2 separate regions of the Homo sapiens genome follow, and region 2 is linked to region 1. The links come from fine-mapping of genetic effects on gene expression. A gene starts in region 1. The other region holds a variant in brackets. All regions are shown on one strand. Distances are between the middles of the regions.

Evidence for each region.
Region 2: its variant is fine-mapped to the expression of GPX3 in whole blood (TOPMed, PIP 0.96).

Annotation. Positions count from the first base shown.
Region 1 is chr5:151,018,060-151,023,575 of GRCh38, reverse strand. GPX3 (glutathione peroxidase 3) reads right to left here and starts at 2,985. Exons shown (of 5, transcript NM_002084.5): 1 at 2,835-2,985. The coding sequence starts at 2,921. RefSeq lists an enhancer at 341-1,540.
Region 2 is chr5:151,050,176-151,055,175 of GRCh38, reverse strand. It overlaps TNIP1 (TNFAIP3 interacting protein 1), which reads left to right. Exons shown (of 18, transcript NM_006058.5): 7 at 2,917-3,011. Among named protein-coding and RNA genes, the nearest start is that of TNIP1, 28 kb to the left of the region's middle. The variant A/G (reference allele first, on the strand shown) is at 2,080.

The sequences.
Region 1 (5,516 bases):
AAAGATTACAGGTTGTCCTAATAATGGGAACTTGTAAACAGAAGGACCAGCTTCTGGGCACAGTTTCAGCTTGGGGGTGTGGCAAGGAGAACCCTATTTCATTAGGTTCTATTTTTTGCTGGCTGTGTGGCCCTGAGCAAGTCACTTACACTGTCTGGGCATATGTCCAGGGAGATAAGCATGCTGCTGCCCAAAATGGTTGTGGGAATCTGCTGGCAGAGCAAAACAGGCCTGGAGTCTCTTGGAACGAAATCTCATGTCAAGGGATAGTGGGGGTCAGAAGGTGGCCCATGGGTGGAGAGCCACGGCTGTGCTCACCACTGATCACTGCAACTCAGTCCTCTATGAGCCCCCTTCCCTTCTCTGGGCACGTGGAATCCCAGAGCACCGCATCTGAAACAGTGGCCAGAGGAGATAAGGGGAGAGGCCATGAGGGTGCCTGAATCCTCCCACAGCCGGGCAAGAGAAGAGGGTTCCAATGGCTTGAGAGTTGGATGATGGGACTCAGCCAGGACTCTGGCTGGCTGGGGCTGCTGGTCTTGTGTCTTTCTCCTCTCCCGTCTTATTACTCCTATCAATATGATGCTGTGAGAAGTGGTCTGGGAGTCAGGAGACCTGAGTGCTGGGCTTTGCTGTGTCTCTGATGCCATGTGACCCCCTTTGCTGGGGCTCCAGCTCCTCCATTGTAAGATGGAGTCAGGTTCAGGGCTGTCTTAAGGGCCCTTTAACTCTGTCAGCCTGTGGTTCCATGATTCTCTCTGCCAGGTTTAGTCACCTAGAAACCAGCAGTTACTAGGATCCCGTGCACGTCAGCAGTTGTCACTCTTTCCGGCTTCTGCAGTCCTTTTGTAGAGACAAGGAGCGTGGGCAGCCTGAAGTTGGACTGGGGAGGTGACGCAGCAAGAAGAGGAGGACCTGGTCTCTTCCCTAGCATCTCCCTTTCAATTGGTAGGAGGAAAACACCTCTCTGGGGCTGAGTCACCTTTCGTCCATTCCATTCTCCACATGCCCCATAACCCTATCTCTTTACCCTGGGGTTGGGGGTAAGGTGAGTGGTTGGGTCCTAACCCAGAGCTAAGACATCTGAACTCTAAGAACTTGGGAGCAGAGATGGGCATGCCCAGGCTTTCATTAGCCAGCAAGTCCTGACTGGTTGTATGTGATATGATCACACCTCACCCTAAAACTTTTCTAGACCATCCCCATCCTATTCTCTCTGAGTCCATTTATCCTTCCCCAGAGTGCTGCAGAGAAGACACAGCTATGATGAGTTATTCATGGAGTCCACGTTCTCCCCACTAGCCTTCTTGAGGCAGGGCCCAATTGTATCTTCTTTGACCTTTCCAAAACTGAAGGTTGGGACTGACTCCACGGTGCTGGCCTGTCTATGGCCCACCCCAAACCTCAATGTTGAAAATCGATCCCATTCCTGACCTGGAAAATGCCTTCTGAGTTGGGGATTATGAACAGGGATGGATAAAAAGGAGGGGACTTGGACGAAGTGGCTTCACATCCATTTAGACTGACTCCAAGGAGAGGCTGATTAATCGGATTTAGGCTGAGGACCGAAAAGGGGTGAGTAACATGGAAGGAACCCTGTGCTTCCAATGGGCTTCCTGAGAAGTGGACAGAATTTTGGAAACGGAATCCTAGACTCATAAGAACTTAATTAAAGTGAAGACCCAGAGGATTTTAGAAACAAAAGCTCAGAGCTTGCAAAAATGTGAGTTATGCATGTTGGGAAGTTGGAGACAGAAATCGCTCGCTTTGAGTCTATCCCTACACCTGGCTTCTGCCTCCTTCCCCACCCACTCCCACTCCCTGGGTAGAGGAGAGGTCTACAGAGCCCACCCCAGTACATACTGTCAAAGGAGATAAGCATGCTGGGTCATCCCACTCCTGGCCTCAGTATCCCCACTCCAGGTGTGGGCCACACACCTGCTGGAAATAGACTGAGGCTCTAGAGAATTCTACCTCTTCTTCTGAATTAGCAGTCCCCAGCTTTCTCCAACTACCAGGTTTCCTCAGGCTAATGAGGACAGTGGGTCCTGGGTAGTGAGGCTGCCCCAGGGGAGGAAATTTCAGAGAACAGCTTGTGGATTTTTCAGCTTCTCCAAGCATCCCCTCTGAGGCCCTCAGCTTCATTGTGCCCCATGCACTCCCACCCCCAAACTCTCCCCTGCAGATGGAGAAACGGGGGTCCAGGAGCAGGTAAGGACTCAGGGTCCTGAGTGTTCTGCACTGTCACTCCAGAGCTCTTTCTAGCACAGATCTCTGCCTCTTCTACCAATGCCCTGAATCCAAGTGGCCATTTCTACCTGCCTGTATCATTCTTGGGGTAGAAGAGCCCCCCACAGCAGTTCTTCAGGACCAGGACCACCCAGCTGCCTCTCTCCTTTCTCCTTGTCTCTCTCCCTGGGAACTTGCACAGCCCACCCAGACGCTGGGCATTTTTTTCTGTGACGCCCTCCCTCTTAGGCCCTACTGAAGGGGAGCAGCTCAGGCACGGAGGTGACATAGATGTAGCAAGGCGACCCTCGAGGTGGCAGTGGGGAGAAAGTGCGAGCTCGGGGAGAGAGACCTTCCTCCCTTAGTCATTCTGCCCGCCTGAAGCACCAGGTCTCGGCTCTCCAACAGATGGAACTACGAGACGACGACGGTCGGGGGCGGGGTCCCGGCGGCGGAGGGGGCGGCAAAAGGGGTTCAGGAGGTCTCTCGCACCTGGGGATTGCCCATCTGGCGGGGAGCCTGGGAAAAGGGGTGCATTGCACTGAGCGCTGGACACCGAGGGGCTAGGTTTTTTCTCCCGGCCCCCGGCCCGGAGGCTCACTCACCTTCGACTTCTCTTGTCCCCGGCTCTGCGAGACGAAGCCGGCCAGGAGCAGGGAAAGCAGGCAGGACGCCTGCAGCAGCCGGGCCATGGCGGGGTGGGGGCACACTCAGGGTCGCCTGAGCCGCTGCCTGATCCCTGGCCACCGTCCGTCTGAGGTGTCCGGCGCTCCCAGCCACCTTTCAAGCCCTCGGGTGTGACCAATCCGCGGCCAAGCCGAGACCCTTGCAGCCAATCGCTAGGCGGCTGGGATTTCAGGGGCGGGCGCGACTTGCCCTCAGCTCCCCACCTCCCCGTCCCGGGGCGACAGTGACATAAGCAAATCTGGGCAGAGAGGTGGAAGTCAGGTCCCTGTGGACGTGGGAGGCGGTCCCTTCCTCTTTTGGCTCCAAAGTGCGAAAGGAGGCAGACACAGCGGTCTCCATTACAGCCAGGGCAAGGGGGCTAATAGCTCCCTAGAACTGATGGAAGTCTCCATTCTGGGAAGCATTTCTTATTCCTATCGAGGTTTTAAAAACACCTGGCGATGGTCCTCTGGAAATTGAGGGTTTAAAATTTCAGCAAGAGCTGAAGTTAAACTTCCAGAAACATTTACTATATATAGGTTTAGTGCTTAAGAAACAAAGAGTGGGTGTCCTGGGATTTTGAAAACCCCATTCTGGGTAGGGCATTAGGACTGTAGGGACAGAGAAGGTGGGGTGCCTTTCCTCCCCATCATAAGGATCACAGCTGACATGCCTGTAGAAAAAGGTTAGCAAGAGAAAAGCATAACGATTTATTTAATTAAAGTTTTCTGTGACATGAGAGTCTTCAGAAATGAAGACCCAAAGACTCAAGGAAAACTCTATTTTTAGGCTTAGATTCTATGAAGACCATGGAAATGCGCAGAAATGTGAGTGGGGAAAAAGGGAATGGTCTAATAGTAATAAACTGAGTGGGAAACCCAGCAAGGCTTGTCTGTTCGTATTCTTCTTGGCCTATCTGTGGCCAAACCACCTGGCTTAGAAGCAGAAAATAAATTTGCTCCCTGTGTAGTCTTTAACATGTTGCAGTTACTCTCTGGGCCTCAGTTTCCTCAGCTATGTAATGATGGGATTGATTAGTGATCTCCAGTGCCCTTCTGGCTCTGGCTAGATGACTTGTTTCTAAAGTAAGTGACAGACGGAGACCAGGAGTCCTTTGAGAATAGGGCCCATAATCACCACCTGGCACAGGGCCTAGCACACAAGAGATGTAAAGTATTTGCTGACTTAATCATTCATTACATTAAAAAAACAAAATCTCCATGGAACACTTAGGATCAGACCAGGCAGTTCTAGGGCTGGGCTGTCTAGGTATGATCCCGTTCACAGATGGGGAATGTGATGGAATCAGTCTCAAATCTCTCTGACCACCAGAGTCAACTGGGAAGCCTTTAATACAGATTCCTGGACCCCACTTTGGAATCACTGCATTAGAATCTCTAGGGGCAGAAGCTGAAAATCTGTCTTCAGACATGTTCTAAGGTTATTGTGAGGCAGTTGGCCTGGCTGTAGCCTTGGTAGTGTGAGTCCTAGGATTAAGTGCCTTCTGGAACTTTCTTCTGACCAAGAAATGCCTTGAGAAACCATACCTTTACTATGATTAAAGGTATTAACATCCCCCTGGGAATTTGGAAGATGTCTCTCAAGTTTTGCATTCTCTACGAAGTCTTCCCACCTCAAACCACAGCCTGTTGAAGTGGAAGGAACCACAGAGGCCAGGAAGTCTTTAGCTGAGTTAAAGCCTGGGAGCATATGAACAATGGCTGACACACAGTAAGTGCTCAATACGTTTTATTCAACCACCTCATTTCCCTGAAGCCTAGAGATGAGGAGCAATTTATCCAAGTTCCCATAACCAACTGATGGCAGGGAGGGAACCAGAATCCAGGTCTCTAGACTCAGTCTCAGGCCCTCTCCATGTTGTTCTGTTGTCTTTTAAGGTTCGTATTTACCCTAAAATATAAACATCTGTGTGCACATCAGTTTGTCAGAAATCCATTGTTCATTAGTATCAGTAGGCATCTAGTGACCCTCAAAATAGGCACCTAGCAACATGTTAACACCATGAGAGATGCTAAAGAGTTGTCTAAAAGCCAAAGTCCCTGCTCTCAAAGGTGTTTCCAGCAGATACCAGCAGGGTGAGGGAAGGGAAGGCACCTAGGGTCACACAAGTGCAGGCTGGCACCTGGCAGCGGGCATCTCTCTACATTTTGCACCCTCTATGTCTCACTTGTCTCACCTTAATCCCAGCCCTGGTGGTCTATTTCTTTAGGGGAGACAAGAAGGAGCCAGAGACCTGAGATGCTACCCCTGGATTGCTACGGAAAGTAATAAAATTACTTTCCTTCTCTGATCTCAGTTGTCCACCTATTTAACAAGGATCTTTGACAGTCTCTCAGTGGTGGTGTCTGTGGCTTTTCATTCCTAAGAGTATAAGGAAAGCCTGAGCCATACAAAACAGGAGTACAAAACTGATGACATGGACAGTGGGGTGGGGAGGCTTGGGGAGCCTGCCCTGGCATTAAGAAGGGCTTTCATGCTGCAGTGAGCTTTCAAAGGAGGTCTAACCATTGGCACAAAGAGCATGACAGTGAAAACAATGAGAATGAAAACAATACTTCCCAATCTTTTCATCAGCAGCCTTTTAAATACATTTGGTTGAC
Region 2 (5,000 bases), 32 kb before region 1:
GTATTCACTGTTGCGTCCCAGTTCGTGGCACTTCATACACACTTGGTGAATGAATGAAAGGACAAAATAATAAATGATCAAATGAACTCATAGCTCTCGTAGCACCTTGGATGGAAGGTGATGATCTTTGTGACCTCTGATGATTCTATCCATTGGCCGGTTTGCACCCAGGGCATTGGCCCAGAGACTCCAAGGAAACAGCTCTCTAGACTGCAAGGGTAGGACAGCAAGTGAGGCCTTGTCCTGGCCTTCCCTTAGGGACTAGGAGCAGGCCATTCTGTTCCCTGGAGGCCTCGCCCAGAGACATGGCATCTTGGGTATTTTTACTGCCTGGGTGGAGGTGTATTGATCCAGTTCCTCCTCATTCATTCACTGATGTGTTTCTTGGTTCACTAAACAAACATATTCAAGGTCAGGTATAGCATAAGGCTCTCTGCTAGGCATTGAATGGACTCATAACAATAATTTTTTGATTTCTTTTTTTTAAGGGGTGTTGGGGGACAGGGTCTTGCTCCGCCACCCAGGCTGGAGTGCAGTGGTGCGACCACAGCTCACTACAGCCTTGACCTCCTGGGCTCAGTTCTCCCACCTCAGTTCCCTGAATAGCTGAGACTACATGCATGCGCCCTTATGCCTGGCCAATTTTTTGGTATTTTTAGTAGAGACAGGGTTTTGCCATGTTGCCCAGACTGGTGTTGAACTCCTGGGCTCAAGTGATCCTCCTGCCTCAGCCTCCCAAAGTGCTGGGATTACTGGTGTGAGCCACCATGCCCAGCTGGTTCTCTGTTTGCTAAGCCTCATCTCCCTCATTGTCCAGCCACCTCCAGTTGAAGGCTGTGTCCTCCATTCAGCCTTCCCAAGAGTCTCCTTTGTGAGTCAGAAATGAAACAACTCTGAAATCTCCCTGGGTTACACAACAAAAGTTTTCCCTCCTATTCTGTGTGGCAGGGGTTTGTTTCTGCTCTACACAGTTCCTTAGAGTCCCAGGGAGACAGGGGCCCAACTTTCCGGTGCCCTTTAGAATACGAGGCATCCACATCAGCCCCTGCTACCAGGAAAAAGAGACTGGAGAATTGTGCGTAGGCCAGTCCAGGAGTGATGCTTGTCCCTTCTACACCTCTTTTGTTGGCCAGAACTAGTCACATGGTTGCATCCACCTGCAACAGGCCTGGGAGGTGGAAGGCAGCAGATGGCTGTTTAGTGAATGGCCCTGGTCCTGGCCCAGCTCAAAGGCTGTCCCCTCCTTTGGGCACCATCTCTCTCCCTTCTCTGATCTTTCATCACAGGGGAAAGAGACACCAGTGTGGGGTCTGCCAATTGGAGTTTTACTCCCCGCCAGTGATGAGTCTTAGCAGCTGTGCACCTGTTAGACTGTATCATTTTACCTGGTTTCCCTACCTTTAACATAGAGATGAGTTACTTAGCTTTGAGGAAGTTGTGAGGCACCAGTGAGGCAGTATATGGAGAAACACCGAGCAATGTACCTGGCACAGGTGAGGTGCTCAGTGAGGATCTGTGGAAAGATTGAACAACTCTGTGCTGACACTGTATGCTAGCATTGCTAGTCAGCACCTTCCCTTCCCCCCAGCCTGTGAGGTCCTGAGTCTGGCGACCCCTCTTCCATGCCCCCAGTTCACAGAGCTTCCAATATGAGTCCCCGCACATAAGCAAGTGACTGATGGTTCATGGACACTTCCACTCTCACTGTCTCATCTGTCCCTCTCAGCAGCCCTATAGAGGAGGCAGAGAAGAAACAGTTGTCCCTGGGCTAGGTGTGGTGGCTCATGCCTGTAATCCCAGCACTTTGGGAGACTGAGGCAGGTGGATCACTTGAGGTCAGGAGTTTGATACCAGCCTGGCCAACATGGTGAAACCCCGTCTGTACTGAAAATACAAAAATTAGCCAGGCATGGTGGCACACACCTGTAGTTCCAGCTACTCAGGAGGCTGAGGCAGGAGAATCTCTTGAACCTGGGAGGTGGAGGTTGCAGTGAGCTGAGATCATGCTACTGCAGTCCAGCCTGGGCAACAGAGTGAGACTCTGTCTTAAAAAAAAAAAAAAAAAAAAAAAAAAGAGAA[A/G]CAGTTGTCTTTCTTTTGTAGAGGAGGAACCAAGTGTCACAGCCACATTGTGAGGGCGTGAGGGCATAGTGAGGTCCCGACTGAATGCCTTGTCTTCTGGTTTTCCCCTTGGCAACACTGGGCACCTCTCACACCTGCAAATTGGTGTGCCTTTCAGCCCCCCTAGGACTCGCCTGCTCATTTGTCCATTTGCTCATTTGGCTGTTCAGTCATGTTGTTCCTTCCACAAACTTTGAGCTGGGGGCTGGGGATCTGGCAGTGAACAAGAGGATGGTTAGGGGTCCCAGCCCTCCGGGAGCTCAGGAATTAATTAGGGGTAAGGGGGTAGATATTAAGAAAACAGCAGCACGAACAGTTCTTTAGCTTTATCTGCCACAGGTGCTGAGAAGCGTAAAAGCGGGGGGCTGTGAGCAAGGATAACGGAGTTAGCCTAATGTAGCTGGATCGGGGAGTCAGGGAGGACTTCTCTGAGGAGATGGGATTTAAACTAAGACTTCAAAGAAGGGTAGAAGTCAGCTGGGGGAGGCTGGTGGGGAATAGGGGTCCCGGCAGTGGGAGCAGGGATGAAGGAGAAGGGATGGAGCTGTCTGTCTTGGAGGAGCAGAAGGCCCCATGGCTGATACTTGGTCAGGCTTCTCCGTAGTTGGCTCCCAAGGGAGAGGACACGTGGGTGGCCAAGTGGCTTAGCTCCTTAGAGAGGGATGGGGTGAGGCCAGGCAAAGGGGATAAGGAGTTGGGCCCTGGGGTGGCTACAGGCCCCCCACCATCCTCTAGCTCAGCCTGCACCTGGGAGGGGCCCCTCCTTTCCCTCACCCTGTCTGTTCCCCTGCCCCACAGACCCTGTGTGAGCAGCTTCGGAAGGAGAACGAGGCTCTGAAGGCCAAGTTGGATAAGGGCCTGGAACAGCGGGATCAGGCTGCCGAGAGGCTGCGGTAAGTTCAGGCCCCTCAGAGAAGGGGTGAGGAGTGGGGGCTGCAGGAGGAGGGGCTGGTGTGCAGCACTGATTTCTGGGTTGAGGACCGTGGCTCTGAGGCCCTGTGCCCAGAGCCCTATTTGGAGGTTACGTCTCTTGATCCTTCTCCTTGGCTCTTTTGGTATTTTCTCTCTGGCCCTTTTGCCACCTTGGGAGGTGTATAGAGTGCCTTGAGAGCTTCAGAAGAAGGTCAGCATAGATTGTACTTCCTTCCTCCTCCAGCACTTGCCTCTCTCCCCTGTTAACGGTGAACTGGCTGTCCAGAGGACTCAGGACTTTGCTGCCTCCTGCTGGTCACCATCCCAACCTGCTCTGTCTTCCTGAGAACATGAGAGCTCCCCCACTGGACTAGGGGGCTTAGACTTAACTGAGGGTTGAGGGTCAGGGAAAGGCATTACAAGTTTATACGCCTTCCCTTCCTTCCTTTGCAAGATTCTGAATTGACAGGTCTTAGGCAAGACCTAGGAGCCTGCATTTCACCAGGAGTCTCTGTGATTATGAACGAGGTAGGCACAGGATCACGCCTTGGGAAACACTGATCTTGACTGTCAGAGCTTGACAAGCCCTTGGAGATCATGCAGACAGACCTCTCACTGTGCAGAGGGGAAACTGAGGCCCAGGGAGAGGCAGGGACTTGATTGGAGTCTTACAACAGGAACTTGGGCCTCCTTGCTCTCCATCCTGTGAGTGGCCACAATTCCTGCCTGCACTGTGGTCCTGGACAGTTTGGGTGATGAGTCATCTGGTGGGTACCAGCTGGGCTCAGGCACATAGGAAAGGCCCGTGTCACAGACAGGACTTGCCACTCTGTTTTTCCCTCCTCTCCTGTTTCTTATTAGAATCAACAGAAAGAGAAGGAATATAAACTTTGTAAGTATGGCCACAGAAGTAATGTTTAACTACTGAGCCACTGGCTATTTTGAATCAGTGTGTAATTTATTTGCTTTTGGATGGCCAAGGATGCACTTTTGGGGTTTTTATAGCCCTAGTGACCCCATCCATGGATTCAGAAACTGAAGCTGGGGAAAAAAGTCACGGATTAGAAGGCAAGAATGCAAGTCTCTGCTGTATGACCTTGGGAAAGTCATTTTACTTATTGGTTTTTCAAGCGGAAACTCAGCTGGCAAATAGAACATAAAGAAGTGGTGGTTGGGCGTTGTGGCTCACACCTGTAATCCCAGCACTTTGGGACGTTAAGGCGGGAGGATTGCTTTGAGTCCATGAGTTTGAGACCAGCCTGGTGAAATACATCACCACCCCTCCCCCAGCCCCAACAAAAAATACCAAAAAAATTAGCTGGGTGTGGTGGTGTGCCTGTAGTCCCAGCTACTCAAGAGGGTGGGGGTGTGTGGTGGGGGAGGTTGGGGGTGGCTGAGGTGGGAGGATTACTTGAGTAGGAGCAGTCGAGGCTGTGGTGAGCCGAGATTGGGCCACTGTACTCCAGCCTGGGTGACAGAACGAGACCCTATCTCAAAAAAAAGAAAGAAGAAACATTTTAGTCAGACCTGAATCCACATCACTAATTTTATGATCTCCTCTATCACCTGCCTTATTAGTTACTTAGAATTTTACTTTAATTTGATTCATCTTTTTACTTAAAATTATAAAGGCAACTTTAACTAGAGTAAATGGAAAACAGCATTACCTGTGATAAATAGAAGATAACTCTAAATACAATGAAAGTGAAAGGATGTTAATAAATTCAGGCTAAGGATCATTGCACATTGAAGGCTCTGGGCCTGCAGCCTGCACCTTCTGTGTTAACGAGGGAAACTGGCGAGTAACTAGAGAGGTGCCCAGGGCCTGTTAGCACCAAGCTCGCACCGTCTCCGTGGTCTACACAAGAAATGTGAAGATAATTGGAAAGGGTGTCACTTTCTCACTAGAATGTGATCCAGGGTTATTTAATGCAGTGTTTGGATATATCCGGAAGGTCTTGTGTGCATAG